6 separate regions of the Homo sapiens genome follow, and regions 1, 2, 3, 4 and 6 are each reported to be linked to region 5. The links are microRNA targets in miRTarBase. Many come from high-throughput screens and were not tested one by one. Region 5 holds a microRNA gene; each other region holds the end of a gene's coding sequence.

Evidence for each region. Region 5 holds the annotated microRNA hsa-miR-6747-3p (UCCUGCCUUCCUCUGCACCAG, at 2,536-2,556, shown strand). A microRNA usually pairs through its seed, bases 2 to 8, with sites in the 3' UTR of a target mRNA and lowers its output. Matches are read on the target gene's strand: a 7mer-m8 pairs with bases 2 to 8, a 7mer-A1 pairs with bases 2 to 7 and ends in A, and an 8mer does both.
Region 1: the mRNA of GATAD1 is a reported target of hsa-miR-6747-3p. Seed matches in the 3' UTR shown: 7mer-m8 at 2,149-2,155, 8mer at 2,306-2,313, 8mer at 2,611-2,618, 8mer at 3,284-3,291, 7mer-m8 at 4,236-4,242 and 8mer at 4,373-4,380.
Region 2: miRTarBase lists IVD as a target of hsa-miR-6747-3p. Seed matches in the 3' UTR shown: 8mer at 3,164-3,171, 7mer-m8 at 2,925-2,931, 8mer at 2,789-2,796, 7mer-m8 at 2,624-2,630 and 8mer at 2,196-2,203.
Region 3: miRTarBase lists RBM43 as a target of hsa-miR-6747-3p. Seed matches in the 3' UTR shown: 8mer at 2,867-2,874.
Region 4: the mRNA of PTCHD3 is a reported target of hsa-miR-6747-3p. Seed matches in the 3' UTR shown: 8mer at 1,573-1,580.
Region 6: miRTarBase lists TMEM154 as a target of hsa-miR-6747-3p. The part of its 3' UTR that is shown has no 7-base or 8-base seed match.

What each region holds. Positions count from the first base shown.
Region 1 is chr7:92,454,756-92,459,928 of GRCh38, forward strand. GATAD1 (GATA zinc finger domain containing 1) reads left to right here. Exons shown (of 5, transcript NM_021167.5): 5 at 1,617-5,173. The coding sequence ends at 1,807. Among named protein-coding and RNA genes, the nearest start is that of GATAD1, 9.9 kb to the left of the region's middle.
Region 2 is chr15:40,416,962-40,422,208 of GRCh38, reverse strand. IVD (isovaleryl-CoA dehydrogenase) reads right to left here. Exons shown (of 12, transcript NM_002225.5): 12 at 901-4,079. The coding sequence ends at 3,946. Among named protein-coding and RNA genes, the nearest start is that of IVD, 14 kb to the right of the region's middle.
Region 3 is chr2:151,246,620-151,251,866 of GRCh38, forward strand. RBM43 (RNA binding motif protein 43) reads right to left here. Exons shown (of 4, transcript NM_198557.3): 4 at 1,321-5,045. The coding sequence ends at 4,287. Among named protein-coding and RNA genes, the nearest start is that of RBM43, 13 kb to the right of the region's middle.
Region 4 is chr10:27,395,061-27,399,060 of GRCh38, reverse strand. PTCHD3 (patched domain containing 3 (gene/pseudogene)) reads left to right here. Exons shown (of 4, transcript NM_001034842.5): 4 at 1-1,940. The coding sequence ends at 767. Among named protein-coding and RNA genes, the nearest start is that of PTCHD3, 17 kb to the left of the region's middle.
Region 5 is chr11:62,564,320-62,569,566 of GRCh38, reverse strand. It overlaps MIR6747 (microRNA 6747), which reads left to right and starts at 2,496; the gene lies at 2,496-2,556. It overlaps EEF1G (eukaryotic translation elongation factor 1 gamma), which reads left to right. Exons shown (of 10, transcript NM_001404.5): 6 at 2,039-2,168; 7 at 2,557-2,761.
Region 6 is chr4:152,624,269-152,629,515 of GRCh38, forward strand. TMEM154 (transmembrane protein 154) reads right to left here. Exons shown (of 7, transcript NM_152680.3): 7 at 1-4,293. The coding sequence ends at 4,278. Among named protein-coding and RNA genes, the nearest start is that of TMEM154, 53 kb to the right of the region's middle.

The DNA.
Region 1 (5,173 bases), not on the chromosome of region 5:
TTAGTCAGCTTGGGCTGTCAGGACAAAATATCACAGACTGAGTGGCTTAAACAACAGAAAGTCACTTTCTCACAGTTGTGGAGGCTGAAGTCCAACATCAAGGTGCTGGCAACACGGATTTCTGGGGAGGCTTTTCTTCCTGGCATATAGATGGTCACCTTCTTGCTGTGTCCTCACATGGCCTTTCATGGAGTGAGAGCTCTTTGGTGTATCTTCTTATAAGGACACCATTTCTGTCAGATGAGGGCCCCACCCTTATGGTTTCATTTAACCTTAATTGCCTCCCTAAAGGTCTCATCTCCAAGTACCATCACATTGGGGATTAGGGCTTCAACATATAAATTTGGAGGGTGGCGGGGGGGGATGCAATTCAGTCCATAACAAAAAAAGCATGAGTATTATTAAGTACAAAAAAATTAGAGAGCTTTATAGAAAATATGAGGCATTTTATGTAGCTGGAGTGTGAGTGCTATCAGTTATTTTGAGTTAGAGCAATGTGCATCTACTAAGAAGTGGTATGGATAAGATTTTTTTGGAGTGACCCAGGGTTAAACTGTACTACAAGAATGTATTGCTCAGGAACTAGGTTATTTAGGTTACTTATTTATACAAACCTATTCAAAAATAATTTAGGAAAGAACTATCCCAGTTATCCCATACTTGCAAATTCTCAATATGTGTGCCTCTGCATGCTACACATGTCATCTTAGGCCTTTATAGTATAAAGGCTGATAGTTGAAATGGCAGCTGCTGTGCTTTTGTTAATTTCAAAGCTGCCAAAACAGTTGTGAGATAGACTCACAAGAATTTACTGATTAATACAATTTTTAAAGTTTTCAGATTTTTACAGTTACTTCAGACTTTTTATCTTTCTGCAGTGAGCATGCATCATTACTTTTGCATCCTGAGAACAAGCATAAGTGTGTTTTTGGAGAGAACTCCAGGGACAAATAATATACCACTGTTATTCTCACCTATATGTCAAGTTTGATACATTACCAAACAATTCTAGCCTTCTGCTTATAAGTATATAGAATTTTTATTTACCTTATCTATGGATCAGGATCTCAGCAGAGGCAGTGATGTATCAGAATCACCTTCGGGATTCCTCTACTGCCTCCTCTTTCTAATCCCCAGATTCTGATATGCATCCTTGTCCTACAGCGAGGCAGCATGGCATGAGGTCAGAACACCAGTTCTGGAGCCAGACTGTCTAGGTTCACAGCCTGCCATTTACCGGCCATGTGACTTTGGCAAGTTTCTTAGTCTCTCTTGCCTCACTTTCCTCATATGTAAAATGGGAATAATAATAGTGCCTACCTCAGAAGGTTGATGTGAGGAATGAAGGTATTGATACATGTAAACTTAGAGCAGTGTGGGTACAAAATAAACATGATGCAAGTGTTCAATCACTGTTTTTGGGAGAATGCCATATTCTTTAAGCCGTTAAAGAAGAAAAAATGATTAAGAATAATTTCAAAGTAATGCATGTTTCAAGGGCTAATGCCAGGTTGCTCCCAGAGTGGTCTCTCCCAGTGTCTAGAAATTTTAACATCTTATGAAAATGATATATATGGTCAAAAATGTATTTAACCTTTCCCTTGGCTGCCTTCCAGGGCCAGAGGAAGATCTTCCAAGGAAGATGGAATACTTGGAATTTGTTTGTCATGCACCTTCTGAGTATTTCAAGTCACGGTCATCACCATTTCCCACAGTTCCCACCAGACCAGAGAAGGGCTACATATGGACTCATGTTGGGCCTACTCCTGCAATAACAATTAAGGAATCAGTTGCCAACCATTTGTAGTTCACAAATTAAAACTGGGTTTCCAGGCCTGGTGTGGTGGCTCACGCCTGTAGCCCCAGCTATTGCACCACTGCTCTCCAAGCTGGGCAATGGAGTCAGATTCTCTTTCTTAAAAAACCACAAAAAAACTGGATTTCCAGTTCTCTAATATTCTTAGTACCACAAGATATGTCATAGGTATCTTTAAATGAAATTCTTAGCTGGAAAAGTGACTAAAAAGTTTTTCTCCTGCTACCTAGTAATAAACAAATCATTGTTTATTACTGGTCACTTAGAAAATTAAAAGGGATAGGGCCAGGCACAGTGGCTTATGCCTGTAATTGCAGCACTTTTAGAGGCCGAGGCAGGCGGATCACCTGAGGTCGGGAAGTGGATCGCCTGAGGTCAGGAGTTCGAGACCAGCCTGGCCAACATGGCGAAACCCCGTCGCTACTAAAAATACAAAAATTAGCCAGGTGTGGTGGCATGTGCCTGTAATCCCAGCTATTTGGGAGGCTGAGGCAGGAGAATCGCCTAAACCCAGGAGGTGGAGGTTGTAGTGAGCCAAGATTGCACCGCTGTGCTCCAGCCTGGGCAACAGAGTGAGACTCTTGTCTCGGAAAAAAAAAAAAAAAAAAAAGGCTGGGCACAGTGGCTCACGCCTTTAATCCCAGCACTTTGGGAGGCTGAGGCAGATGGATCGCCTGAGGTTGGGAGTTCGAGACCAGCCTGGCCAGCATGGTGAAACCCTGTCTCTACTAAAAATACAAAAATTAGCCAGGTGTGGTGGCGCACACCTGTAGTCCCAGCTACTCGGGAGGCTGAGGCAGGAGAATTGGTTGAACCCAGGAGGCGGAGGTTGCAGTGAGCAGAGATCGTGCCACTGCACTCCAGCCTGGGTGGACAGAGCAAGACTCCGTCTCAAAGAAACAAACAAAAAATTAAAAGGGATAGAATATAATGAAATATATTTTGAACTTAAATTATATTCTATATGTGTATCTTCCTAGGCAAAAGCTGTAATTTCCAGAGAGACCATTAGGAACAGGTAGTATCTATTTTTCTCCATTATTTATTTCTAGAAACTCATAAAATGGATTGTATTTTTCTATAAGAACAAAATATTAATTAAGGTATAGATGACTGACCAAGGGCTTAATCAAATAAAATGACTAACAGCATCTATCATAAAGCCACACAAGCCTTATGTTCTCATCTCAAAAATGCTGTGACAGCTTTTTGGCTGCTTTAACCATAAGAAAAATGATTGGTGGATGATTTTATTAGCCCAGGCTTTTAAAAACTTTCATCTAGGCCACGTGCGGTGGCTCATGCCTGTAATCCCGGCACTTTGGGAGGCCTGAGTGGATGGATCACTTGAGGTCAGGAGTTCAGGACCAGCCTGGCCAACATGATGAAACCCTGTCTCTACTAAATATACAAAAATTAGTTGGGTGTTATGGTGCATGCCTGTAATCCCAGCTACTCGGGAGGCTGAGGCAGGAGAATTGCTTGAACTCGGGAGGTGGAGATTGCAGTAAGCCGAGATCGTGCCACTGCACTCCAGCCTGGGTGATAGAGCAAGACTGTCTCAAAAAAGAAAAAAAAGAAAAAATTTTAATTTAATCCTTCTGTAGAAACAGGCATTCAGAACCATTCCATTGATCTTAATAAAGCTGCTCTTTACTGTTTCTAGTCAAAAATGAGACTTCGATCAAACCATAAGATTTTATACTGCAGATAGTCAGCTTCACCAAAGCCGCAGAGGAAACATGTCGAGATCAGGCTTCCTGCTTGATAGTCTCTTGACTACCATTAAAACGAATATTGGGAGGTCATGAAAGTCATTGGTAGGCCATTAGCATTGATATCTTTAAAACATCTACCCTAAACCATCTGCTATGGACCCATAATAAGAGGCCTGTTGTATATGAAATTGTCTAGAATTCAGGTGCAGGTCTTTGCCGGTTAAGTAAGGGAGCAACACGTAAAATGGGAGAGGAGTGGGGTGTACTCACTTGCCTCCTCTTTTGTCCTGATTTAACCAGCATTTTTCAACCCTGGGAAAATTTGCAGAATCTAAGTTGATTGTAATGATTTTGAGCTGCAGCAGCTTTAACTCTTACCCTTTTTCCACATAGTTATGGTGTTTGAGTTGGAAAGAAACAACTATAGGTAGCTACACGTACATAATTATCTCTTTATTCACAAAGGGTATAGTAAAATTGATTGTAAATAACTTTCTAAGTGCCAATATTCAAAACTTTTGGATTAAAATGTATTTTTCACCGTGCATTTACTTTGGATGTATTTATTTCATTTAAACAATTTAAATGGGGCTCTTTAACCAAAAATGGTATTTAAAACCAAAACAGTATCGTACTTAGAATTTGGAGTAGAGGCCGGGCACAGTGGCTCACGCCTGTAATCCCAGCACTTTGGAAGGCTGAGGCAGGCGGATCACCTGAGGTCAGGAGTTCGAGACCAGCCTGGTCAACATGAAACCCCGTCTCTACTAAAAATACAAAAATTAGCTGGGCGTGGTGGCGTGCGCCTATAATCCCAGCTAGTCTACTCGGGAGGCTGAGGCAGGAGAATCGCTGGAACTCAGGAGGCAGAGACTGCAGTGAGCCGAGATCGCGCCACTGCACTCCAGTCTGGGTGACGGCATGACTCCATCTCCAAAAAAAAAAAAAAAAGATTTTGGAGTAGATTCATCATTAATAAGTAACAGATTTTAGGAAAATCAAAAAATGGCTAATAAAATGAACACAATGTAAAACATTTATTAAAATGTAGACTTTTAAAAATCTATAAATTGATCATCTGTTTATAAATTGGCAGATGGTTGTGTACCATCTTTTAAAATAAAGATTGAATTTCACCCAGTGTGATGGTTCCCATTGCTTATATTTCTCCTGCTGAGGCCGGACCTGATATGGCCCTGGTCTGTGTTCCCAGCCTTGTTTCCTCATTACCACTAAAATCTTTCCCCTGTATGCCCGCCCAATTTTTCTGGCTCTGAGTCCTTGTTCATACTGTTCTCTCCAATTCTACCTTCCAAAGGCCTTTCTTAACACCTTCGGATTCTTTCTTTGAGAACTTTCCAGATTCCCATGCCTTTTTGGAATCAATCTCTATCCTATTGTCATCACATTTAAGTTTCTACTTCCATCATCCTCACTCCTATCCCTTTGGTCCTGGGATGACAGGGATGCTGTGTTTTATTTACTCATCTTTGTAACTTCCACATAACCTAACCCCGGTTCTTGCTTATGGGAGATGCTGATTGTAGGGTCTGAGTTAGATACTGTTAACTAAAATGCTTGTTGATATTTTAGTTATTAATTCATATTAACTTTGGCTGAAACTTTTAAATTCTATTGT
Region 2 (5,247 bases), not on the chromosome of region 5:
CGTCGTTGAGTCCTGAAATCCCAAACTGGGGGCCTTGAACCCCAGGCAAAGGCCATATAGGCTGGCTCCGCGCGTTTGCAACCCAACCCCGCGGGCAGCCGGCAGGGGTCAGGCGAGCTCCATGCGACACTCGAGCTGCGTCTGGCAAGCCAGTGCTGCGCTCGAAGAAGCGCGCTGCCTCGAGGGAGAGGGTCAGAGGAAGGACTCTGGACCTGCCCTAGGCTGGGGGTCGCGACAGATGGCCACCTGGGTCTTAGGTCCCAGCTCCCACCCGGCAGGCAGGGACTGGGAACCTCTCTCCAGACCGCGCGGTGTGTTGACACCAGGTCTAGTCCCATTCCACCGAGGGCAACTCACCTTACCGGTCTTCTGAAAGGGGGCCCTGCGCGAAACCTTGCCTCCTGCACTCGGTTGTGCAAAGATCAAGGATCTCAGACTTGAGAGGGTTACATGGGCAAGGGATTGTTATCACTAGATTATATGGATTTAGAATTAGGACTTAGGCTCCTGGGGAAGCCTGCTTTAGGACTCAGATGGTGGTTGTAGAAGATTGCCTTGCAGACTCACCCTTGGGGATGTGATTAGGTCTGGGGCAGGATCCAGGAACCTGCATTTATTCTAGGTTGCCAAATTTTGATAAGGGGTGTGCTCAGACCACGCTTAAAAAACATCCCAAGGTTCTGTTGCCCTCCCACAGGGCAGGCAGCATCAACAGCAGCGAGCTGCCCTGATAGTGTGACCTGCCTAAAATTGGAGTGGAGTAAGAGCCAGCCGCAGGAAGGAGCAGTGCTGGCAGCTGGTGCTGCAGATTTGCCCAATGCATGTAGGCAACCAAACACGCCCACAAGAACCAAAGTAGACGTGCCCCTTGTTCTTCCATTTACCACTCAGGCTGCATGGTTCATTTTGTTTTTTTTGCTTTTAATTTTAAAACATTTATTTTGCTTCACATATAGAACCAGGAAAGAAATCACCTCCCCAAGTCGACAGGGCTTAGACAGACTGGATGAAGCGCCCCATTTTGCCACATTGTCTCCAGGCTGGTCTCTCCAGCCACACATTAAGCCAGCAAGATGGCCCTTTTAGTCACATTCATCTCCAACATAGCAGGGAGCAAGACAAGGAAGTGAAAGGGACTGCCTATGAGCCCAGGATCTTGCCCTCAGGATGGGACGGAACTGGGGTTGGTGAGGAGCCAACCCCACCTGTCTCAAGCCTCAGGCTAGGAACAGCACTTGGCTGCAGGCCAGGACCAAGAGCCAGGATAGGTGCTGCTGGGCTGAGAACCAAGAAAACCAGTTCCCTCTTTTTGGAACTCGGAAGGGGTGGAACAACCCAGACCCATTCCCTTCTCAGATCACACTCTATCCAGACTGCTGTACAGTGCGGCCCAAAGCTGGAATTCTCAGAACACCCCCATTTTTGCCATGAGCAGATCTGGATTCTAGTTCGTTTTGACCTTGAGAAAGTCAAATTGTGTTGATCTTTTTAAAAACAAAGGGGCGGTTTTCAGAAATCTATAAGCTTCCTTCTGGCTGTAAGAACTTAGCACTCTGGGCTCCCTGCTTCCTTTAAAACTCACTGGGAGATCTGGGAAAGGGAGGCTGAGACCTCTCTCCTAAGGGCTGATTTTACCTTCCTGTCCCTCATGAAAGAACGGGCTGGAGGACAGGAATAGGACCTGGGCCAGCCACTCTCCAAGGACACAAGCTGGATCCAGACAGGAAGCAGCGGCAAGTAGATTGCTTCTCCCCAGATAGGTTTGTTTCACAATATATTTAATACAAAATGGCAGCAGCCACTGTGCAGTTATAACAAAATTAGCCATAGGGTATCTGGAGAAATGTACACAGGCAGCCTCAGCTGGAGTCATGCGAGCCAACTCCGGCCTGCTCGGGTAGGGCCTGTGCCTGCTGCCCAGTCAGCTGTGGGTGGTCACACGGCCAGGACTGGATGGTGCCCGTGGCAGGGCGGTGCACAAGGGCTCAGAGGTGCTGTACAGGAGGAGCCAGTCTTCCAACAGTACACAAAAGCACGCTGTCCTCTGCTCTGCCCCCCCTGCGGACTCAGCAGCATGTGTGTTCATTTATTTTATTATTATTTTTTGAGACAGAGTCTCACTCTGTTGCCCAGGCTGGAGTGCAATGGCGCGATCTCAGCTCCTGCAACCTCTGCCTCCTGCGTTCAAGCGATTCTCCTGCCTCAGTCTTCTGTGTAACTGGGATTACAGGCGCGTGCCACCAGGCCTGGCTAATTTTTGTATTTTTAGTAGAGACGAGGTTTCACCATGTTGGTCGTCAGGCTGGTCTCGAACTCCTGACCTTGTGATCTGCCCGCCTCGGCCTCCCAAAGTGCTGGGATTACAGACGTTGAGCCACCATGCCTGGCCTATTATTTTTTGAGACAGAGTCTCGCTCTGTCGTCCAAGCTGGAGTGCAGTGGTGTGATCTTGGCTCACTGCAAACTCTGCCTCCCGGGTTCAAGCAATTCTCTGCCTCAGCCTCCTGAGTAGCTGGGATTACAGGAGCCTGCCACCACACCTGGCTAATTTTTGTATTTTTAGTAGAGACGAGGTTTTACCATCTTGGCCAGGCTGGTCTTGAACTCCTGACCTCGTGATCCACCTGCCTCGGCCTCCCAAAGTGTTGGGATTACAGGCATGAGTCACTGTGCCCAGCCTATTTTTCTTTCCTTTTTTGAGACAGAGTCTCACTCTATGGCCCAGGCTGGACTGCAGCGGTGTCATATTGGCTCATTGCAACCTCCACCTCCCGGGTTCAAGTGATTCTCCTGCCTCAGCCTCCTGAGTAGCTGGGATTACAGACGTGCACCACCACCCCTGGCTAATTTTTGTATTTTTAGTAGAGATGGGGTTTCACCACGTTGGACAGGCTGGTCTTGAACTCCTGACTGCAAGTGATCCACCTGCCTTGGCCTCCCAAAGTGCTGGGATTACAGGCACACACCACCTTGCCTGGCCAAGCAAGCATATGTGTTCATAAGCTGCTAGGAGCTGATACCTCTAGAAACTGGAAGAAACAAGGGCCAGGGTTTTTTTGTTTTGTTTTGTTTTTTGAAGAGTTTTGCTCTTGTCGCCCAGGCTGGAGTGCAATGGCACAAGCTCGGCTCACTGCAACGTCCGCCTCCTGGGTTCAAGTAATTCTCCTGCCTCAGCCTCCTGAAGTAGCTGGGATTACAGGTGCCCACCACCATGCCCAACTAATTTTTTTCTATTTTTAGTTGAGGCGAGGTTTCCACATGTTGGCCAGGCTGGTCTTGAACTCCTGACCTCAGGTGATCCACCCATCTCAGCCTCCTGAAGTGCTGGGATTACAAGCATGAGCCACCACGCCTGGCTAGGCTAGGTTTATTATTTTTTTCCCCCAGAAAAGAGACTGAAAGTTGAATTTGCCTTATCCAAAATGCTTGGAACCACAAGTGTTTCAGATTTCAGGATTAGGGATACTTAACCTGTACCAAGTTCCAATTCATGGAGAGGGGCCATGATTCTGCTGTGCTTGAGCAGAGAGATCTCCTTGCCAGAGCCTCACCCAAGAGAAAGAGGTGGGTACCTGCATGCCCCCAGGTGCCTACCCTGGGAGGTGGGCACCTGCATGCCCCCAGGTGCCTACCCTGGGAGGTGGGCTCAGAAGTTAGAGAGCAAGGGCACAGAGTCACCAAAACCTGTCCCAACAATCCCCAGACAATATGCTTCCTGCTGAGTCCATTTTAAATCACACAACACTAGCCGTGGCACAGGCCCGGCTGCGAGGCCCATGATGCTTGGGAGCTGTTGTGGAGAACTCAACCTCATCCAGAGGCCAGAGGGCTGACAAGAGCAGCTGGGCAGGAGGGCCTGCTGTGGGCAGGGTGGGAAAGCCGCCACATCTCTACTTCCCAAGAAAGGCCACTAGGTGCAGGAAAAGGGGGCGAAGGGTCTCAGGACTAGTGAAAGTCTGCATTGAAGGCTCTGCCGATGACCAGCCGCCTCACCTCGCTGGTCCCAGCCCCTATCTCATACAGCTTGGCATCTCGAAGAAAGCGGCCCATGGGAAAGTCATTGATGTAGCCATTGCCACCTGCAACCAGGGTTTGGGCAGAGAAGAAAGGAAGTGATTGACAAAACAAAGAAAGCAAACAGAATGCCAAGTATATAGAAACAGGCCACAGGAGGAGAGGGTGATTAAAGAAAAGCAGCAAAAGGTAGCAAGAGGGAGGGGTGTGGGGAATACACTAGTCCTTCCTTATCCTTGGAGGATACATTCCAAGACCCCAGTGGATGCCTGAAACCGTAGATAGTACCGAACCCCATATATATGTTGTTTTTTTCCCTATACATACATACTTATGAGAAAGTTTAATTTATGAGCTAGGCATAGTAACAGATCAACAATAATAACAAATACTAAAATAGAACTATTATGACATGCCAGCATCACTACTCTTGCAATCTGGGGCCACTGAGCAAAATAAGAGTTACTTGAACACAGGCACTCTGATATCAGGACAGCTGATTGGATACCCTAGGTGACTACTAACGGGCAGGTAGCCCACATAGCATAGATAGGCTGCACAAAGGGACGATTCACGTACCAAACATGACAGAGCAGCATGGCACAACACTTCAAGCTATTCAGGATGGTGTGGATTTGAAACTTATGAACTATTTCTAGAAATTTCCATTTAGCTTTTTTTTTTTTTTTTTTGGAGTCATGCTCTGTGGCCTAGGCTGGAGTGCAGTGGCATGATATTGGCTCTCTGCAACCTCCGCATCCAAGGTTCAAGTGATTCTCCTGCCTCAGCCTCCTGAGTAGCTGGGATTACAGGCGCGCACCACTGCACCCAGCTAATTTTTGTATTTTTAGTAGAGATGGGGTTTCACCACGTTGGTCAGGCTGGTCTCGAACTCCTGACCTCAGGTGATCCACCTGCCTCGGCCTCCCAAAGTGCTGGGATTACAGGTGTGAGCCACCGTGCCCGGCCTTTTTTTTTTTTTTTTTTTCCGAGACGGAGTTTCACTCTTGTCACTCAGGCTGGAGTGCAATGGCGCGATCTCCGGTCACTGCAACCTCCGCCTCCTGGGTTCAAGAGATTCTCCAGCCTCAGCCTTCCAAATAGCTGGGATTACAGGCTCCTGCCACCACACTTGGCTAATTTTTTTTTGTATTTTTAGTAGAAACAGGGTTTCACCATGTTGGCCAGGCTGGTCTCAAACTCCTGATCTCAGGTGATTCACTGGCCTCAGTC
Region 3 (5,247 bases), not on the chromosome of region 5:
CTGTTTCAAAAAGTTCCAGGAAGATGGGAGGCCAAGGTGGGTGGATCACCTGAGGTCAGGAGTTCGAGACCTGCCTGGCCAGCATGGTGAAACCCCCCTCTACTAAAAGTACAACAATTAGCCAGGCATGGTGGTGCATGCCTGTAATCCCAGCTACTAGGGAGACTGAGGTAGGAGAATCGCTGGAACCCGGGAGGCAGAGGTTGCAGTGAGCCAAGATCGCGCCATTGTACTCCAGCCTGGGTGACAGAGTGAGACCCCGTCTCAAAAAAAAAAAAAAAAATGTATTAGCCTGGTGTGGTGGCAGGTGCCTGTAATCCCAGCTACTTGGGAGGCTGAGGCAGGAGAATTACTTGAACCCAAGAGGCAGAGGTTGCAGTGAGCTGGAACTGCACCATTGCACTCTAGCCTGGGCAATAAGAGCAAAACTCGGTCTCAAAAAATAAAAATAAAAAATAAAATTTTTAACAACCAATTATTTTATCTTAGGATAAAAATTTACCATATAATTTTTAATACATCAATTGTATTTTCCTAAATTTATATTTTGATTAATAGACCGAAATACTTTTAGTCCTTTTATAAAACCTAAGAAGCCAAGAACAAATGTCTATGTATTTAGCAATTTTTTTTTAATTTGGATATGATCCAGACATTTAATGAGTATCATTTAACATAATTTTAAGATTTTAAAATTACATGAAAAGCTCATTTATAAATGTTTATTTCATTTATAAGATTTATTTCTCAATTATTCCTAGATTTATGAAAATTGAGATAGAACTAGTCATTGTTTTTATTAATCAGTTTTATAGACTGTTACCATGAAGTATTTATCTTGATATTAAGGTTTAAGTAAGAACCTTAAAGTTAAAAACAGCCACCCTGTTGCTAACTCAGAAAAGTTACAGCTATTTTTATTAAAACAACAATATAATCATATTTATTTAAAAACTATATAAACAAAGATCATTTTGTTTTAGGCTTTATGACTTTAAAACATCTAGCAGAGGCAAATATAAAACTGTCTGACCAGTAAACCCAGACAAAAATGTCTGCTGACAATTTTGAAGACATTTCTAATTTTATTTTATCCACAATTTTAAAACCAATTAATTTATCAAAGATTTACTTAAGTCACATCAACTAAAAAAAACTGGGGGTTAATTACTATACATTTTATATGAGTGCTCATTTATTTAAACCAATCAGAATAAAATTTGTTAAGGGATTTCTGGCTGACTACACCAGCTTTTATGTAGATACAACATTCAACATAATATATGTACATACACATAAACACATTTAAACACATATACATAAAGATATTAAAACTTTTATTTTAGAATTTTAGTCATGATATAGTAAAACACGTAAATTCACCAGTTTATAAAAATGATTAGATGCAAATTATTTTTCTGACAAAATGGGCTAAGGATAAGCTTTAAGCTTTTTTAATAGGCAATCTTATAAAGGCTGTAAATCAAATTTGGGATAAAGCAGTTTGAGTCACTCACCAGTGCACTAAATTGAACAAAAAATAGTTAACTGTGAAAGTGTGCTGAATTATGTGAGTAGGACCAAAAGACAAGAGTGATTTTTAACAAGGTTTATACAGTATTTTCTTGGACTCAATTCTTTGTCATTGAAGATAAAAATGCTGCTATTCTTTTTTGTATAGGGAGGAAGGTTTTACATGGGAATTTAATCTTTGCTTTAAAAAAAAAACAGTAGGAAGGTCAAAATGACTTTGTTTTATATCTGCTGGTTTTCAAGTGTTTTTATTTAAGTAGTATGTTAGAATAGCTGTTTAGAGAAGGATAAAGAGGGGATACTGTAAGAAGGGGAGGGGAAAGGTCTAGAAAAGAAAGTTTCAGCCACCTTTGAGACAGTATTTTTTAACAAGGCAATATTTGTATCCTGAATGTGTTTTGTTTTTGTTTTTATTTTTTTTTAGCCTCAAGATATCAATGAAATATGCATATCTTATTTGGAGTGTATGATTTTATAGCCTCCATCTTTTAGTTCAGTTTTAAGAAAAACAGACTAAATGATCCCTGTAATGTTTGAATATGTTACTAGCTGGAGTTCCAGAAAATATTCTGGCATGCCTTTGAACTTTGAGAGCTCATTTCGTGGGTGCTCTGATTTAATGTCAACTATGCAAAAGCCAAGTAAATGCAAGCACTGAATACACAAAGGCCAAATAAATACAAGACAGGACAGAAAATAAAATACATGCTTACCAGTAAGAATGATAAGCCTTCTCCAAAGAAAGGGAAAAATTCCCTCATCCAAGCCTCAAGGTCCAAACCTCGCAGCTGAGGTCAACAGGGGGAAAATAATTCTACCCAACAGATCTACCAAACAAGAGGGGGAAAGACCTCTCCCTAATCATATCCCAAATAAAACAGAACTCGAACCATATCTGAGAGTTCTGTCCAAGAGATACTTACTGGAGGGAGAAAGGATTACCTGTGAAAGTGGTGGGGGTGTAGGGGGTTCAAAGGGCCCCAACATGGGTACCTCATGCCATAACTCCAAAGGCCAATGATTCTCCATGAGGTGAGTCAGCTTTGTATCCCACTTCTGACACCATGCATGTCAAAGTCAAAATGAAAATGTAGACACAAAACTAAATTTAATGTTTTGAGAAGAAAGAATTTCAATTCTAGGTGATCTTTAGTATGTCCAACAAACAAAGAGAAGGTTGAGGGTTTTATTTAAAACTAAGAATGTTACTTGTGGTCTTTCTTTTTTTTTTTTTTTTTTTTTTGAGACGGAGTCTCGCTCTGTCACCCAGGCTGGAGTGCAGTAGTGCAGTCTTGGCTCACTGCAAGCTCCACCTCCCGGGTTCACGCCATTCTCCTGCCTCAGCCTCTAGCCTCCCGAGTAGGTGGGACTACAGGCGCCCACCACCATGCCCGGCTAATTTTTGTATTTTTAGTAGAGATGGGGTTTTACCATGTTAGCCAGGATGGTCTCAATCTCCTGACCTTGTGATCCACCCGCCTCGGCCTCCCAAAGTGCTGGGATTACAGGTATGAGTCACCACGCCCGGCCAACTTGTGATCTTAAGAGAAAGTTCATTGGTATTAGTAAAGCCCTGGGGAGCTGGCAAGCTCCAACTGGTGGGCAATGGCCATAGGTAAAATTAGTCCTAGAGTTACAGCAAGTTATCTCAGCAGCTATAGACAAAACTGGTCTCAGGTTACAGCAAGCAGTTTCAGTAGCCAGGCTCACAGAGAATTACATTCTTGGAGCAATATTATGTGTCCCAAGTACTTTTTCCCCCTAGCTTCTTGAGTCTGTTTTAGTTGGATGTGACAAGAATGACTCAATTAATATTATCAACTTGCACAATTATAAAAGAATCACCATTTTATGTAAGCACTTAGGCTAAAAAAATAGTAAAAACATCCTATGTGGCCAGCAGCCTTGAAACAATAGAATTTAGTCAAATAATGATTACCTGCATAAGATATGCTTTCCATCTAAGTAGTTTCCCCAGTGATTTTTGCCAGTATTCTAATTCTACACGGAGTAAACACAAACTGTAAATGTTAAGAAATTGCCCATGGCATAATAATCACCTTTCAAATTTCTCATATGTTAAGGCTACTTCTTAATAATTATTATTCTCTAATAATTTGGAGTTACAGAGAAAGTAAGATTCCTTCAAAGTTTGGTGAGTTTGCTGGGCGCAGTGGCTCACGCCTGTAATCCCAGCACTTTGGGAGGCCGAGGCGGGTGGATCACAAGGTCAGGAGATGGAGACCATCCTGACTAACACGGTGAAACCCCATCTCTACTAAAAAAATACAAAAAGATTAGCCGGGCGTGGTGGTGGGCACCTGTAGTCCCAGCTACTCCAGAGGTTGAGGCAGGAGAATGGTGTGAACCCAGGAGGTGGACGTTGCAGTGAGCCGAGATCACGCCACTGCACTCCAGCCTGGACAACAGAGCGAGACTCCATCTCAAAAAAAAAAAAAAAAAAGTTTGGTGAGTTTTTTTCAAAGTTTTATTCCTTAGATATTATCTGTGTAATCAGATAGACTGGGCTAAGCCACAGCCTCATTCTTTGTCAACTGGATAACTTCAGAAAAGTGTTTTAACTTCTCCAAATCCTAGTTTCTTCCGCTGTAACATGAGGATAGTCAACACTGACAAAGAAGGATGACTATAAGGATTCATGAGATACGGTGTGTAAAGCTAGCCTCATTCATGGCAATGGTCACTGCTCAGCAAGAGAAAGCAGCCCTTATGACTATATTGCTGAGATTTTATTAACTAACCTTTTGCCCTATTAATTTCATGACCCCTTTTTTAAACAGGTAAGTGTCAGAAGAAGATCCTATAATGTCAATGTGTGTCCTATAAAGGTTAATCAGGACTTCAAGGTATCTCGAACTTAATTGTTCACATGCCCTTTTGATCATTCTTTTCTCTCTATTTTCCTTTCCTTCCAAAATAAATGTCTCTTTTCTAAGCTTTAAGTAAAGAGCATGTGACCATTCCTCAATGAGCTCTTTTACATGTTTTGCATTGTTTGGCTGAGAACCAACTTGAATGCTTTTTAGACAAATTGTGGTGATTTCACCATCCACTTTCTCCTGACTCAGAATGTGGAATTTTTTCAGTGTGCTTTCATAAGATCCACACTTGTGTTTCAGGTAAAGAAAAACATCTGTGTCAAGCACAAGCATTTCTCCACTTCTAGCAGTCTCAGGTACTAAGGTCCTGACTGATGCCAAAGAGTTATTACTTCTCTGTAGATTCCTCTGGGGATTTTGTCTATTCCACTTTCTCTCCTCACTGGTAAAATTTCTGTCTTTTTCTAAGAGAGAACATGCTCTTGCTAGCAAAGATTCTCTGAGCCTCTTGACAGCCAGAAATGATCCTTCCACGGAGATTCTTCCATTGGGTTTCAAAGGACTGAAGCTTAAACTCGGGATTTTTTTTTTCAGGTCTTTTACCAGAGTTTCTAGAGTAACTTCTTTTCCAAAAACAGAAAGATCAAGGATGGCATTTACAGAGCTGAAGATCTGAAATTAAAAAGAGAGAAATGAAAACAGTACTGCCTAGTGGGAAAGACTACATAAACATGTTCTTTTCTGCCACTTTCTTTTCTCTGCAGAAATTGCAATAAACCAGGCCCCAGTTGCCTGCCCCAGACTTCCTGACTTCTTGCACCAGGGCAGCCCATCAAAGTTATCCCATTTTGTTCAATTTGGGATTCACACTCCC
Region 4 (4,000 bases), not on the chromosome of region 5:
AATGTTTTTGCATCTATACAGGAATGACCCTGTTATTTTGCTATTTTTATAACATCACGTGTTTTGGAGCATTTATGGCCTTGGATGGTAAAAGAGAAGTAGTCTGCCTATGCTGGTTGAAAAAGGCTGACCCAAAATGGCCCTCATTTAAAAAGTTCTGCTGTTTCCCATTTGGTTCTGTCCCAGATGAACATGGAACTGATATCCATCCAATAAGTTTGTTTTTTAGAGACTATTTTGGCCCCTTTCTCACAAGGAGTGAGTCCAAGTATTTTGTAGTCTTTATATATGTTTTGTACATCATAAGCAGTATATATGGGTGTTTCCATGTGCAGGAAGGTTTAGACCTTCGAAATCTGGCAAGTGACGATTCCTACATCACACCATATTTTAACGTAGAGGAGAATTATTTTTCAGATTATGGTCCCAGGGTTATGGTTATTGTTACTAAAAAAGTTGACTACTGGGATAAAGATGTTAGGCAAAAACTGGAAAACTGTACTAAAATTTTTGAAAAAAATGTCTATGTAGATAAAAATCTTACAGAGTTTTGGTTAGATGCATATGTGCAATATTTAAAAGGTAACAGCCAAGATCCTAATGAGAAGAATACTTTTATGAACAATATTCCTGATTTTTTAAGCAATTTTCCAAATTTTCAGCATGATATTAATATTTCTTCATCAAATGAAATCATTTCTTCCCGGGGCTTCATTCAGACAACAGATGTTTCTTCCTCAGCCAAAAAGAAAATATTGTTATTCTAATTACGACGCATAGCTGAAGACTGTCAAATTCCCCTAATGGTGTATAACCAGGCATTTATATATTTTGATCAGTATGCTGCAATATTAGAAGACACTGTTAGAAATGTATTGGTTGCATCAGCAGCTATGTTCATTGTTTCCTTATTGTTAATCCCTTATCCATTGTGTTCCTTGTGGGTGACTTTTGCTATTGGTTCTGTGATTGTAGGGGTAACGGGTTTCATGGCATTCTGGAAAGTCAATCTTGATTCCATATCCATGATTAATCTTGTCATTTGTATAGGGTTTTCTTTCGATTTTTCTGTACACATTTCCTATGCATTTGTTTCTAGTTCTCAACCCTCAGTAAACCAAAAATCAGTTGAGGCATTGTATCTTCTAGGCTACCCAGTGTTACAAAGTGCAATTTCAACAATAATAGGGGTGTGTGTTTTAGCTGCAGCGAAAGCATACATCTTCAGAACATTTTTTAAGATTATGTTTCTTGTTATGATATTTGGGGCAGCTCATGGCCTAATTTTTATTCCAGTATTCTTAACCTTTTTTGGAAGGTTTATTTGAATATCCACTAACAAGTCAAAGACCAATTCTAGAATTCCTGATTGCCCTATTCCAATCTGATTTTTTTAAATGCACTATTAAGAATAGTCAACAAACTACTGGGAGGCCAAGGTGGGTGGATCACCTGAGGTCAAGAATTCGAGACCAGCCTGGCCAACATGGTGAAACCTCGACACTACTGAAAATACAAAAATTATCCAGGCATGGTGGCGTGCACCTATAATCCCAGCTACCTGGGAGGCTGAGGCAGGAGAATCGCTTGAACCTGGGAGATGGAGGTTGCAGTGAGCTGGAGTGCACCAGGCACTCCAGCCTGGGTGACAAGAATGAGACTCCGTCTCAGAAAAAAAAAAAAAAGTCAACAAACCAAAAACAAGGGCATGTTTCCTTGACTTGGAAATCCCATTTTAAATTATTATTTAAAATATACTGATAAAAATTAATTAGTCTTATGTTAAAATATCTTCACTAAATTAGGAAGTGTTATCTTTCTTACAGTCTTTACAATCAAGTACAAGGTACAACTTTTCTGTTATTTTTTCCCTTTATATTTATGCCTGAAATTCAACTATTGTATGTATTGTTCATACTATAAATGGAATATTATTTTCATTGCACTTGCTACATGCATTCATATGTGAAAATGCATCTTATCATTTATTTTCCCATTCAGGGGCTTTTCTATGCATTTTGTTAATGGTATATTTCGATAAGAAGTTTTTAAAGTTTATAAATCCAATTTATCATATTTTTTTCATGGTTAGTGCCTTCTTATCCTAAGAAATATTTTGACTACTCCAAGGTTACAATTAAAGTCATCTCTGTTTTCTCCTCTAAGCTAATAGTTTTGATCTTACATTTAGGCCTGTGATCCATACGCATGTATTTGTTGGGCAGTATCGATAGAGGTCCATTCCCTTTTCATAAAAGCTGCCCATTTGTCTCAGCATCATTTGTGAAAAGACTGTCATTCAGGATAGGATTAACTTGGCATCTATATAAAAAAAAAATCAGTTGACAATATATGTGTGGTTCTAATTCTGTGCCATCGATCTGTTTGTCTGCTCTAAGGCCAATACCACCACACAGCCTTCATTACTGAAGCTTTTTATTAATTACTGAAATTAGGCTGTGTATGTTGTCCACTTTTATTTTTATTAATCTTTCTGATTTCAAAGTTTATCTTTGTTACGTTCTTTTTTTTTTTTTTTTTTTTTTTGAGACAGAGTCTCACCCTGTCACTAAGGCTGGAGTGCAGTGGTGCGATCATAGCTCACTGCACCTAAAACTCCTGGGCTCATGTGATCCTCCTGCCTCAGCCTCTGAGTAGCTGGGACTACAGTCATGCCATTACATCTGACTAATTTTTTGTTTTAATTTTTTTTTAAGAGACAGGGTCTTTCTGCATTGGCCAGGCTGGTCTTGAACTCTTGGCCTCAAGCAATTCTTCCGCCTCAGCCTCCAAAACTGCTGGGATTACAGGTGTGAGCCACCATACCAACACTTGGTTACTTTTTTATCTTAAACTCTATAAACCAACATTGCTTTTTTTAAAGAAGGTATTCATCATCATAAAACTATACTGTAACAAAGCAATTCACTTTTACCCTGGAACTTGTTGGTTTTGGGCCTTGAATTTAACTCATCACACCAACCAATGGGTTGGGAAAAGTGAAAAACAGCAACAGTGTAGAAGTTGTATTAATGATTAGAAACGCTGGCTATTTAAATGTGACCTTGCCTAAAGGCTTTAGCCATGTTTTTGCTGTTTTGCAATCAGTGGCTCCAGCTCCTTAGTTATCTCTCCTAGACGTCAATTCCAAATTAGTTTCTTTTCCTCACCAAAAATATTTGGGGTGATGTCAGCATAAACGGGGTAGAATGTAGCTCCAAGAGCCCATTTCATCACAAAAATAAAAAAATTGAAAAATGCAACAACTGTTAGAAAAGACTCTAATTGAACTCTGAAAACGGTCCAAGGTTTACACCAACCAAGTGGACACCAAATCAGAAAAAAAGCAACTTAAAAATGGTAGGAAAATTTTGTGGCGTTTTTATTTGCCCTTGTCTCACACCCCCCTCCCTGGCTTGATAGTGATGGTGGTCCTAAGAAGGTAGCCTAGGCCAGGCAGGGTGGCTCAGGCCTGTAATCCCAACACTTTGGGAGGTCGAAGAGGGGGGTGGATCACCTGAGGTCAGGAGTTCGAGACCAGCTTGCCAACATGGTGAAACCCCATCTCTACTAAAAATACAAAAATTAGCCAGGTGTGGTGGCACGCGCACCTGTAATTGCAGCTACTCGGAGGCTGAAGCAGGAGAATTGCTTGAGACCCGGGAGGCAGAGGTTGCAGAGAGCTGAGATCGCGCTACTGCACTCCAGCCTGGGTGACAGAGCAAGACTCGGTCTCAAAAAAAAAAAAAAAAAAAAAAAAGGTAGCCTACCTACCTTTTTTCATTCCTACCACGTGTGGGACCCAGGTTCCTACTTCCAGAGGGAGAAAAGACCTCATTCACAAAGAGTTTTTCTGTTTAAACATGTCTACGAGCTATCGGAAGACTGACACAAAGCACTTATCCTTGTTTCACCTTCCCCAGAACTCACTCATGGTGAAAAGGGAGCAAGAATTTCCTTAAAACATTGTAAGCCAAATAAACAGCCCACAAGCATCAGG
Region 5 (5,247 bases):
TTTATTCTTATTTTTCTTTGACCATGCTTAATACACCAGACACTAAGTTTAATTTGAAGGACTGTCCATTATTTATTTATTTATGTATTTATTTTGACAGAGTCTTGCTCTGTCACCCAGGCTGGAGTGCAGTGGCACGATCTTGGCTCATTGCAACCTCCACCTCCCAGGTTCAAGCGATTCTCCTGCCTCAGCCTCCCAAGTAGCTGGGATTACAGGCATGCGCCACCAAACCCGTCTAATTTTGTATTTTTAGCAGAGATGGGGTTTTGCCATGTTGGTCAGACTGGTCTTGATCTCCTGAGGACCTCAGGTGATCCACCCGCCTCGGCCTCCCAAGTGCTGGGATTGCGGGGGTGAGCCACCACACCCAGCCAGGACTGTCCATTATTCTAAATGCGTTTGAATATTTTCTTTGAATGTTCTTTACTTTCTGAAGTTTGATGGATGGGTGGGTGTGGGGGGTGTGTGTGTGTGTGTGCGTGTGTGTATAGTATGGCCAATATAGATAGTAAATACCTATAGTGTTTAGATTTTATTTGGCAAAAAAGTCCTCGATAGCCCTCTGTGGGTCTCAATCTTTTTTTTTTTTTGAGACGAAGTCTCGCTCTTGTCCCCCAGGCTGGAGTGCGATGGCGCGATCTCGGCTCACTGCAACTTCTGCCTCCCGGGTTCAAGTGATTCTCTTGCCTCAGCCTCCTGAGTAGCTGGGATTACGGGCATGTGCAACCATGCCTGGCTGATTTTTGTATTTTTAGGAGAGGCGGGGTTTCACCATGTTTGCCAGGCTGGTCTCGAACTCCTGACCTCAGGTTATCTGCCCGCCTCGGCCTCCCAAAGTGCTGGGATTATAGGCGTGAGCCACCGCTCCTGGCCGACGTTTGAAATTTAAAAGATTGGAAACAGTAGATCTGAAATAGTTTTGTAAAGGAGCAAGACAATTATTACTCCTACTCCTAAATGGAGGATGGACCCAAGCATCCATCCATTAAACTGGACTACACTGAAAAAAAAGATTAGAAAAAGAAATGGAGGCCAGGTGTGGTGGCTCACGGGTAATCCCAGCACTTTAGGAGGCCAGGGCAGGAGGATTGCTTGAGCATGCGAGTTCAAGATAAGCCTGGGCAACATAGTGAGACCCCATCTCTATTAAAATTTTTTTTTTTTTTTTTTTTTTTTGAGACAGAGTCTCACTCTGTCACCCAAGCTGGAGTGCAGTGGCGTGATCTCGGTTCACTGCAACCTCCACCTCCTGGGTTTAAGTGAGTCTCCTGCCTCAGCCTCTGGAGTAGCTGGGACTACAGGCACGTGCCACCACGCCCAGCTAATTTTTTTTTTTTTGAGACAGAGTCACTCTGTCACCCAGGCTGGAATGCAGTGCCGCGATCTCCGCTCACTGCAAGCTCCGCCTCCCGGGTTCACGCCATTCTCCTGCCTTAGCGTCCCGAGTAGCTGGGACTACAGCTGCCCGCCATCACGCCCAGCTAATTTTTTTATTTTTAGGAGAGATGGGGGTTCACCGTGTTAGCCAGGATGGTCTCGATCTCCTGACCTCGTGATCCGCCCGCCTCGGAGATCCCAGCAGTTTGGGAGGCCGAGGTGGGCGGATCACTTGAGGTCAGAGTTCGAGAACAGCCTGGCCAACAGGGCGAAACCCCATCTCTACTAAAAGTACAAAAATTAGCTGGGTGTGGTGGCAGGCACCTGTAGTCCCAGCTACTCAGAAGGCTAAGGCATGGGAGGCTGAGGCACGAGAATCACTTGAACCCAGGAGATGGAGGCTGCAGTGAGCTGAGATCACGCCATTGCACCCCAGCCTGAGCGATAGAGTGAGACTCTGTCTCAAAAAAAAAAAAAATTGAAAAAAATGAAGAAATGGGAAGTAATCCAGGGAAGGATGATGTTGTATGAAGCTATTGTCTATAGGGTTTGAAAAGAAGGTGAGCACTGGGACTTAGGTAGAGCAAGGACTCTTGCTGTGAACAGAACTCTTCAGGGCCTTTCCACTGACTTTGTTTACACCCTTATGTCCTGGCAGGTTCTAGAGCCTTCTTTCCGCCAGGCCTTTCCCAATACCAACCGCTGGTTCCTCACCTGCATTAACCAGCCCCAGTTCCGGGCTGTCTTGGGCGAAGTGAAACTGTGTGAGAAGATGGCCCAGTTTGATGGTGAGTCTGAGGAGACTGGGAGGCATATGGCCAGGATCAGGGTCTGGTTTGCTCTGCATCAACCCCTTGATTTCCTGTCTTGCTTTTGGGTTATGGGGACCTGCAGAATGTAGGGTGTCAATGTGGTAGCTAATATTATGTGCAGTTTCGTGTACACTCATACCCTGACTAATTTGTATTACTATATAGATTTGCGATATAAAGTATTTGTTGCTGAGTGTGTTGTTGCTGGAGGACACACAGTGAACTGATGAGCAGTCTGGGGCCTAAGTTCCTTACTTGTCCCATTCGTCAGTTTCCTCTGTTACCTTGCTTGCTCTGTGTGGTTTTGGAGGGGTGTGGAAAGAGGCAGAACATTCGTTCACTTTCCTGCCTTCCTCTGCACCAGCTAAAAAGTTTGCAGAGACCCAACCTAAAAAGGACACACCACGGAAAGAGAAGGGTTCACGGGAAGAGAAGCAGAAGCCCCAGGCTGAGCGGAAGGAGGAGAAAAAGGCGGCTGCCCCTGCTCCTGAGGAGGAGATGGATGAATGTGAGCAGGCGCTGGCTGCTGAGCCCAAGGCCAAGGACCCCTTCGCTCACCTGCCCAAGAGGTAAGGATATTGGAGGGTGGAGGGTGTGGGACCAAAGAAGGCCTGTTCTCACCTCTGTATGTCCCCCCTCACACACAGCTAGAGCCAGAATTTTAGGTTGTCCATATAAAGTTAAAGGTATATTTTAGTTGCAAATAAAGCAGCTTTCTGGCTGATAATCAGGAATTGGGCAAATTTTGATTGTGGAGAGCAAGTTTCAAGTACAGCCAGTACTGGGGAAGATTGAACTCCTATTCCAACAAAGACAGGAACAGATTTTGATATAGTGGTAAGTTGGTTTTGAGCAAGCTCATTTGACCATTTGAGAGCTCTGAGAACAAATACAGGGAGAGGCGTGGGGAGGAAGAAAGTGCAGAGAGCCTTGCGGTGCGCCACGCGCCCGGCTGTGCGGAGATAGTGGATGCCAGAGCAGGGTCCTTTGAATTGTTTTGTTTTCTGTTTTGCTGAATCAGACTGTACAAAAATTGCTCACTAAGAAAAAGGATGAAGATCATAGCTAAGTAGTGTCTGTCTAGTTCATTGTTCCACAACCGAGTAAAGTCCCCAAGTAGAAGAAAGTAGGTGTCCTCTGTATCCCTTTTTCAGTTAAAGGTAGGGCTTCTTGGAAGAAATAATATAGTAAAAACGAGATTTTTGGCATGAAAAATGTAGGACGCTGAGTGCTTGCCCAGTTCTCTGGGATGGAGTCTTTCTTCCATCACTGCTCCAAGTCATTTTATTGGGAGTTCAAGCAGTTTGAGAAATATATATTCTGTGGTCACTTTGCTTTGGAACTCCTCTTTCTCTGTACTTTTTCCTCCCACTCACCCTGTCATTTCCAAAGCCGTTCATCTTTTTACTGCTTGGTCTGCTAGGGTTTACATTTCACCCTCTCCCATCTTGTAATGGCTTGGATACCGGGTGAACCAGCCTAAAGGAGCACCCACTGGTAGGGACACAGTAGCTGTGCATAGAATTGTGAATTACAAGCATTGCACTAATAGATGGGAGCAACTTGGGGTATAGCTGAAAGTTCTTACTCCCGGGTATTTTGTACAAGACCAGGAAGGCTCCATCCAGACACAGGCACTCTTTAAAGATGTATTTTTTGAACTAGTGATTTGCCTTGAATTTAGCACAGGTGCAGGTCAAGAGTGAGCAGGATTTTTGGTGTGTGTAAATAGGTCATGATAATTAACCCAAATTACATATTGTGTTGTAACTCAGACGTTGTTAATTATTAGCTAGAGATTTTCACATATAGTAGGTCAGTACTCTGGGCAGGAAATAAATGAGGCAGTAGTAAACTTAAAATCTTTATTTAATAAACTTTACATTTTCTTAACATGGTTTTGGGAATGTTTATTAATGTCTATTTATTGGGTTACCATGATGCCCTACAGGGCTGCCAGAAATGCTTTCCCCAAGGTTTTTTTTTTTGGAAACAGGGTTTTACTTTGTTGTCCAATCTGGAGTGCAGTAGCGTGATCACGGCTCACTGCAGTCTTGACCTCCTGTACTCAAGCGATCCTCCCACCTCAGCCTCTGGAGTAGCTGGGACAAAGGCACACACCACCACACCCAGCTAATTTTTTATTATTTGTAGAGACTAGGTCTCACTATGTTGCCCAGGCTGGTCACAAACTCCTGGGCTCAAGTGATCCTTGGCCTCTCAAAGTGCTGGAATTACAGGTGTGAGCCACTGTACCTGGCTCCTTTTTGTGTTTTTTGTTTTTTTTTGGTTTGTTTGTTTGGAGACAGAGTCTCACTCTGTCACCCAGGCTGGAGTGCAGTGGTGTGATCTCAGCTCACTGCAACCTCCGCCTCCCCAGTTCAAGCGATTCTCCTGCCTCAGCCTCCCGAGTAGCTGGGACTACAATGACAGGCGCGTGACACCACGGCTGGCAAATTTTTTGTATTTTTAGTAGAGACGGAGTTTCACCGTGTTAGCTAGGATGGTCTCAATCTCTTGACCTCGTGATCCGCCCACCTTGGCCTCTCAAAGTGGTGGGATTACAGGTGTGAGCTACCGTGCCTGGCCCCCTTTTTTTTTTTTTTTTTTTTTTTTGAGATGGAGTCTGGCTCTGTCGCCCAGGCTGGGATGTAGTGGTGCAATCTTGGCTCACTGCAACCTCCACCTGCCGGGTTCAAGCAGTTCTGCTTCAGCCTCTTGAGTAGCTGGGACTACAGGCACGCACCACCATGCCCAGCTAATTTTTTGTATTTTTAGCAGAGACAGGGTTTCACCATGCTGGGCAGGCTGGTCTCGAACTCCTGACCTCGTGATCCGCCCGTCTCCGCCTCCCAAAGTGCTGGGATTACAGATATGAGCCACTGCTCCCGGCCTTTTTTTTTTTTTTTGTGAGACAGAGTCTCACTCTGTTGCCCAGGTTGAAGTGCAGTGGTGTGATCTCGGCTTACTGCAGTCTCCGCCTCCTGGGTTGAAGCAATTCTCCTGCCTCAGCCTCCCGAGTAGCTGGGGATTGCAGGTGCGTGCCACCATGCCT
Region 6 (5,247 bases), not on the chromosome of region 5:
GATAGTAGGGCAAAAAAACAAAACACAAGGTCCAGGTACAAATAATTCCAGCCAGTTATGGTGGCTCACACCTGTAATCCCAGGACTTTTGGAGGCTGTGGTGGGAGGATTGCTTGAACCTAGAAGTTCAAAACCAGCCTGAGCAACACGGTGAAACCCTATCTGTACAAAAGATACAAAAAATTAGCCAGTCCTAGTAGTGCACACCAGTAGTCCCAGCTACTTGGGAGGCTGAGGTAATAGAATCACCTGAGCCTGGGAAGTTGAGGCTGCAGTGAGCCATAATCACACCATTGCACTCCAGCCTGGGCATCAGCATGAGACCCCGTCTCAAAAAAAGAAAAATAAAAAAAAACACCCAAAAACTATCCCCAAGAGGACTAAGAAGGAAATAAAACTTTGGTGCCAGACAAGACAGTATCAAGATAAAGCCAAAGAGTTGCTAAAAACAAAAAATAATAATAATTCAGGCAATTGGTTGTCTGGGTTCTGCAATTTGAAATATTCCACTAGACACTAATATACAGGAACTCTTTTGGTCATTGTCACATAGCAGAAATGCTGCTATATGTGAAGTTGTTCTGGACTGCCTGTTATAGCTATTAAATGGAAACCCCAGAATTCATCCTGAATGTCTCTGAATGTGAAAAGTCACATGCGTTAATTTAATTCAGTATAAAATTTCCATGTTCTCCCACAAGGAGGATTTCAGCAGTGTCTTCCCAGCATGAAACCATGTCTTATCACTCCACCAGATTCAGAATTGGTACTAATTCTGACAGAAGCTGAAACTAAAGCCTATGTTTTCTTTAGTCAACATAAGGCCTTTTTTCAGAGATGGTGTGAATTAATAGTTTAAACCACCAAAATAAAAGAATAGACAAGTATTTTCTTAACATATCCATTTCCATTGCTAGAGCTGCGGTGATCAGCAGAAGCATCTGCCTGGCTGTCAATATCAAGGTGGATCCAGGCTGTTGGAACTGGTGGATCCAGGGGTTGGAACGGAGGAATACTAAAAATGAGACTTGGAACTTGGAAGGCCTACACCACGAGGGCCAATTCTGCCATAAGCCCTATTGCCCAGATATGTTACATAAAACATCCAGATATTACAGTGAAAGTCAGTGTGTGGCCAGACACAGTGGCTCACAATTGTAATCCAGCACTTTGGGAGGCCGAGGCTGGTGGATCACTTGAGGTCAGGAGTTTGAGACCAGCCTGACCAACATGGTGAAAACCCCATCTCTACTAAAAATACAAAAATTAGCTGGGCATAGTGACACAGGCCTGTAATCTCAGTTGCTTGGGAGGCTGAGGCAAGAGAATTGCTTGAACCTGGGAGGCGGAGGTTGCAGTGAGCCGAGATCGTGACACTGCACTCTAACCTGGGTGACAGAGTGAGACTCCATCTCAAAAAAAAAAAAAAAAAGTCAGGTGAGAAGAAGTAGCACATAGTGAAAATGAATATAATAATTTTACAGCTGGTCGGGCTCAGTGGCTCATGCCTGTAATCCCAGCACTTTGGGAGGCTGAGACAGGAGGACTGCTTGAGCCCAGGAGTTTGAAACCAGCCTGGGCAACATAGTGAGACCCTGTCTTTAAAAAATAAAATAAAATAATTTTACAGCTTTTGGTTCTCCTGTATTATACAGCATAACTAGGAGAAAAAAAAACTATGAAATTATTTTCCCAAGACCAGTTTTACTCATCTTTATCACATTTGTTTGATGTGGGTTATCCAGGAGCCACCTACATCAAGGTGGATCCAGGCTGTGGTCTTGCATTGGGTAACAAAGCCCTTCCCAGAGGGAGGAGTCACACCATTGGGTCAAGAGTCATGAATGGGTATTTTTACATATTTATTAAAACAAGTTTCCTGAGAAGTTTGACTAGGCTATGTTGTTGTTAACCTAGTTTGCTTAAAATGTACGAAAATGCAATCAAACTTACATATCTTTTAAATATTCGAAAGTCAGATTTTGTTCTGATTGCCCTATCCAATTAGGGCAAATTAGTGAGGGTTTTTTTGGTTTTTGTTTTGTTTTTTTAACAATAGTCTGAAACATAAAATTAAGTTTGGGTTTAAAAACAATTCTTGAAACTGTCATAAACATATGATATCTATTGATTAAACAGTAATAAAAAGACACAAGGTACAAGAATTGAGGCTTGGCTGTTCTGGCTGTATACTAACTTCATATACCCTGACAGAATAAACTATCTTTTTAAAAAGTGCTTTGTACACTGCACAATTATAGCTTTACCAAATAAAAACTCAATGACATGTCGCTGAAATTTGCTTCTTCTAGAATTTGAAATTATTTAAAATACTGCATGAGAATATTTTTATCATATTATATAATATGACTTCATCAACATGAAGTTCCAGGACCCCAGATGCCTCTCTGAGAAGTTCATTATTTGATAGGGTTGGATCAAATGTAAAGGCCCAGGTGTTCAAAGATCTTAGATACCTAAAGAGAGAAAGGGGCAAATGGAGGCTCTTCTGAGAGTCAAAATGTTGATGAGAAACAAACTGAAAGTAGCACACATAGGCAGAAAAATAGACAAGTTATGATTCAGAAAACAATTGTATGCAATTTTGGCATAAATATCTGAGAGTCACTGTGGGCCATGAGTTGAAAAGGAACATGCAAGAGAGCAAGGAAAACACAAAGCCTCATTCAGATGTGCTGGTGAGAATATGACAGAAAATCTGTTGAAGTTGTGTACCATGAAGTCTGTCTTTTGTCAAAGTTCTATGCAGTCCCAGGATAGCGTGATAGCAGTGGTTAAACACAACCAGCTAGTTATAGCTTTCATTGTATGGAAAGACCTCTCTGGTCTGGAACTCTGCCTTTGAAATTATCCACGTAGTTCAGAAGGCAAATACTTGTTAAAGGGATCCCAAAAGGTAGGAGACAAGTAGTTTTTGTTATGCATTAGGGCAGACTTTCAAGCACAAGACACAAAATTGAGCAGCAAATGTTTGGGTAGTCCCATCTCCCTTCGGTTTATATGTGGGTAGTAAAATAAATAAAATTTTCCTTCTTTGTCTCTTTCTTGAAATAAAATATCAGGTATCCAAGGAGAGCTGAGGATTCTCAATTTGCTAGATTGCTTTAAAGGGGTCAGATTTAGAAAATTAAGGAATAAATGAAGAACAATTTTACTGGAGTAGGTGTGGTCAATAGGCCCTTTTCCATTTTGTGCCATTGCTTTTAGCACAAGGATGTCAAAAATATCACATAGAATGTCATCTCTGATGGACTGACAGAGACCTCCTGTTGTGCTGTGTTAGGACATGAGGCTTATCCCAGCTTGGCGGGAGAGAATGCTAAGCATGATGAGTGAGATCTGCCACAGGCACGGATATTTCCTGCTCCTCTTCTGTTTGTTTCAAACCACCTTCAGGATCTCTGAAACATAGAAGGCTGACAGATGACTCCCACCTGCACATACTTCCTACCTACATGTCACATCCAAGGGAGGTATGGTGAAACAAGTGTGAGCTTTGCAGAAATGCTGACAAGCAAGGGAATTTCAGCTGAGGAGAACATTAGTTCTTTCACTGAAGATTCCTAGTTTCTCTGAGAAGTTCTTAAGGGTGACCAGACCTGGCCATGCTAGGGTCTACAAGTTACCAAACGCCACCTCATCAGGACTGTGGACCCCTCTCACTGTGTCTTCTTGGCAGGCAGAGCTTACTGACCCCCTGGGATGGTGTATTCATTAAAATACTTGCTGTGTTTGGTGTCTTTTCCATGACATAACACTCCTCGAGAAAAGTTCCTGCTGAATGTAGTTTACCTGTCCCACGACTTGAATAATCAGAGGAAATTATCCAAAGCTGGTTACTGACCCAAAAGGAAACCATCGATAAAACAGCTTCCTGATTTAGGCCCTAAGGAATGAAGCAGAAAGGTGACGAACATTTATCATGACCAGAGTGAGTTCAGTGAGCTAGAAGTTGGCTGAGAGGAGGCAACACATGTTGATCAGAAGTGAGCACATCACCCGCCTCCTTCTCCACCCTCAGAGGCAGCGATGGATGGCAGCCAGGCCTTTTCCTAGTACTTCTCAATTGCACATTCTTCCAAGTGCAAGTGATGCCATCATTAGGAAGAGTGGGCGTTGGAAGAAACAGCAAAAGGTTCTTGTGTCTATGTTGATTTGAAATTAATTAAATTTGTATCCTCTTCATCCTCTGTTGGCAGCCTCAGCAGACTCCCTCAGGGGCTGCTTCTCTTGGAAAACATGAGCGCCATTCAGGTTTAGGATTCACTGTCACTGTAAAAAAAAAAAAAAAAAAAAAAAAAAACAAAAAAAACACACACACACACACAAAACAGTAATATATTTCTTTCTTTTTTTTTTTTTTTTGAGACGGAGTCTGGCTCCGTCGCCCAGGCTGGAGCGCAGTGGCACAATCTCGGCCCACTGCAAGCTCCACCTCCCAGGTTCAGGTCATTCTCCTGCCTCAGCCTCCTGAGTAGCTGGGACTACAGGCACCCACCACCAAGCCTGGCTAATTTTTTGTATTTTTTTTTTTTTTAGTAGAGGCGGGGTTTCACCATGTTAGCCAGGATGGTCTCGATCTCCTGACCTTGTGATCTGCCCACCTTGACCTCCCAAAGTGCTGGAATTACAGGTGTGAGCCACTGCACCCGGCCAACAGTAACATATCTCTAAGAAGCTAAAGAGAGCTGGTCACTCCATTATGGAGGTGACTGAAGAGATCACAAACCATCAGGAAGCCAATGGTGTCCAGCTTACAATTTCTGAAACGAAGGTCAGTCTAAATTTTATATCTGATCCCTGAGGAAGAAATCCATGAAAGCCAAAAAATAATCCCTAGCTCTTTCTCCTCATAGCCCTCCCCAGTGCTGATGCAGAGAGAACCAGATGGAGTTGGGGGTTCCCCGTTTAATAAATCTAATCCCATTCTCTACGAATACGTGCCAAATTGCCTTTTGCTGAAACAAATTTTCCACATGCCGTTTTCTCTCAAGAGTTTGTGGTCCTGGCATGTCTTCAATAGCCCGTTTTGTTCATACCTACAAAGGAGCTGAAGGGGCCTTCTCAGTGTCATTTAGAATTCAAACATCGGGCATCCTGGGGTGTGAGCAGACATAAATGATGTACATGGTATTTGAACATGACCATGCTGTTGGCTAATTTGGTCTTTTGCTTCTAACTTGGCTGTCTTTGCCAAGTACCTGGCTCCACACCTTTTTCCTGGTG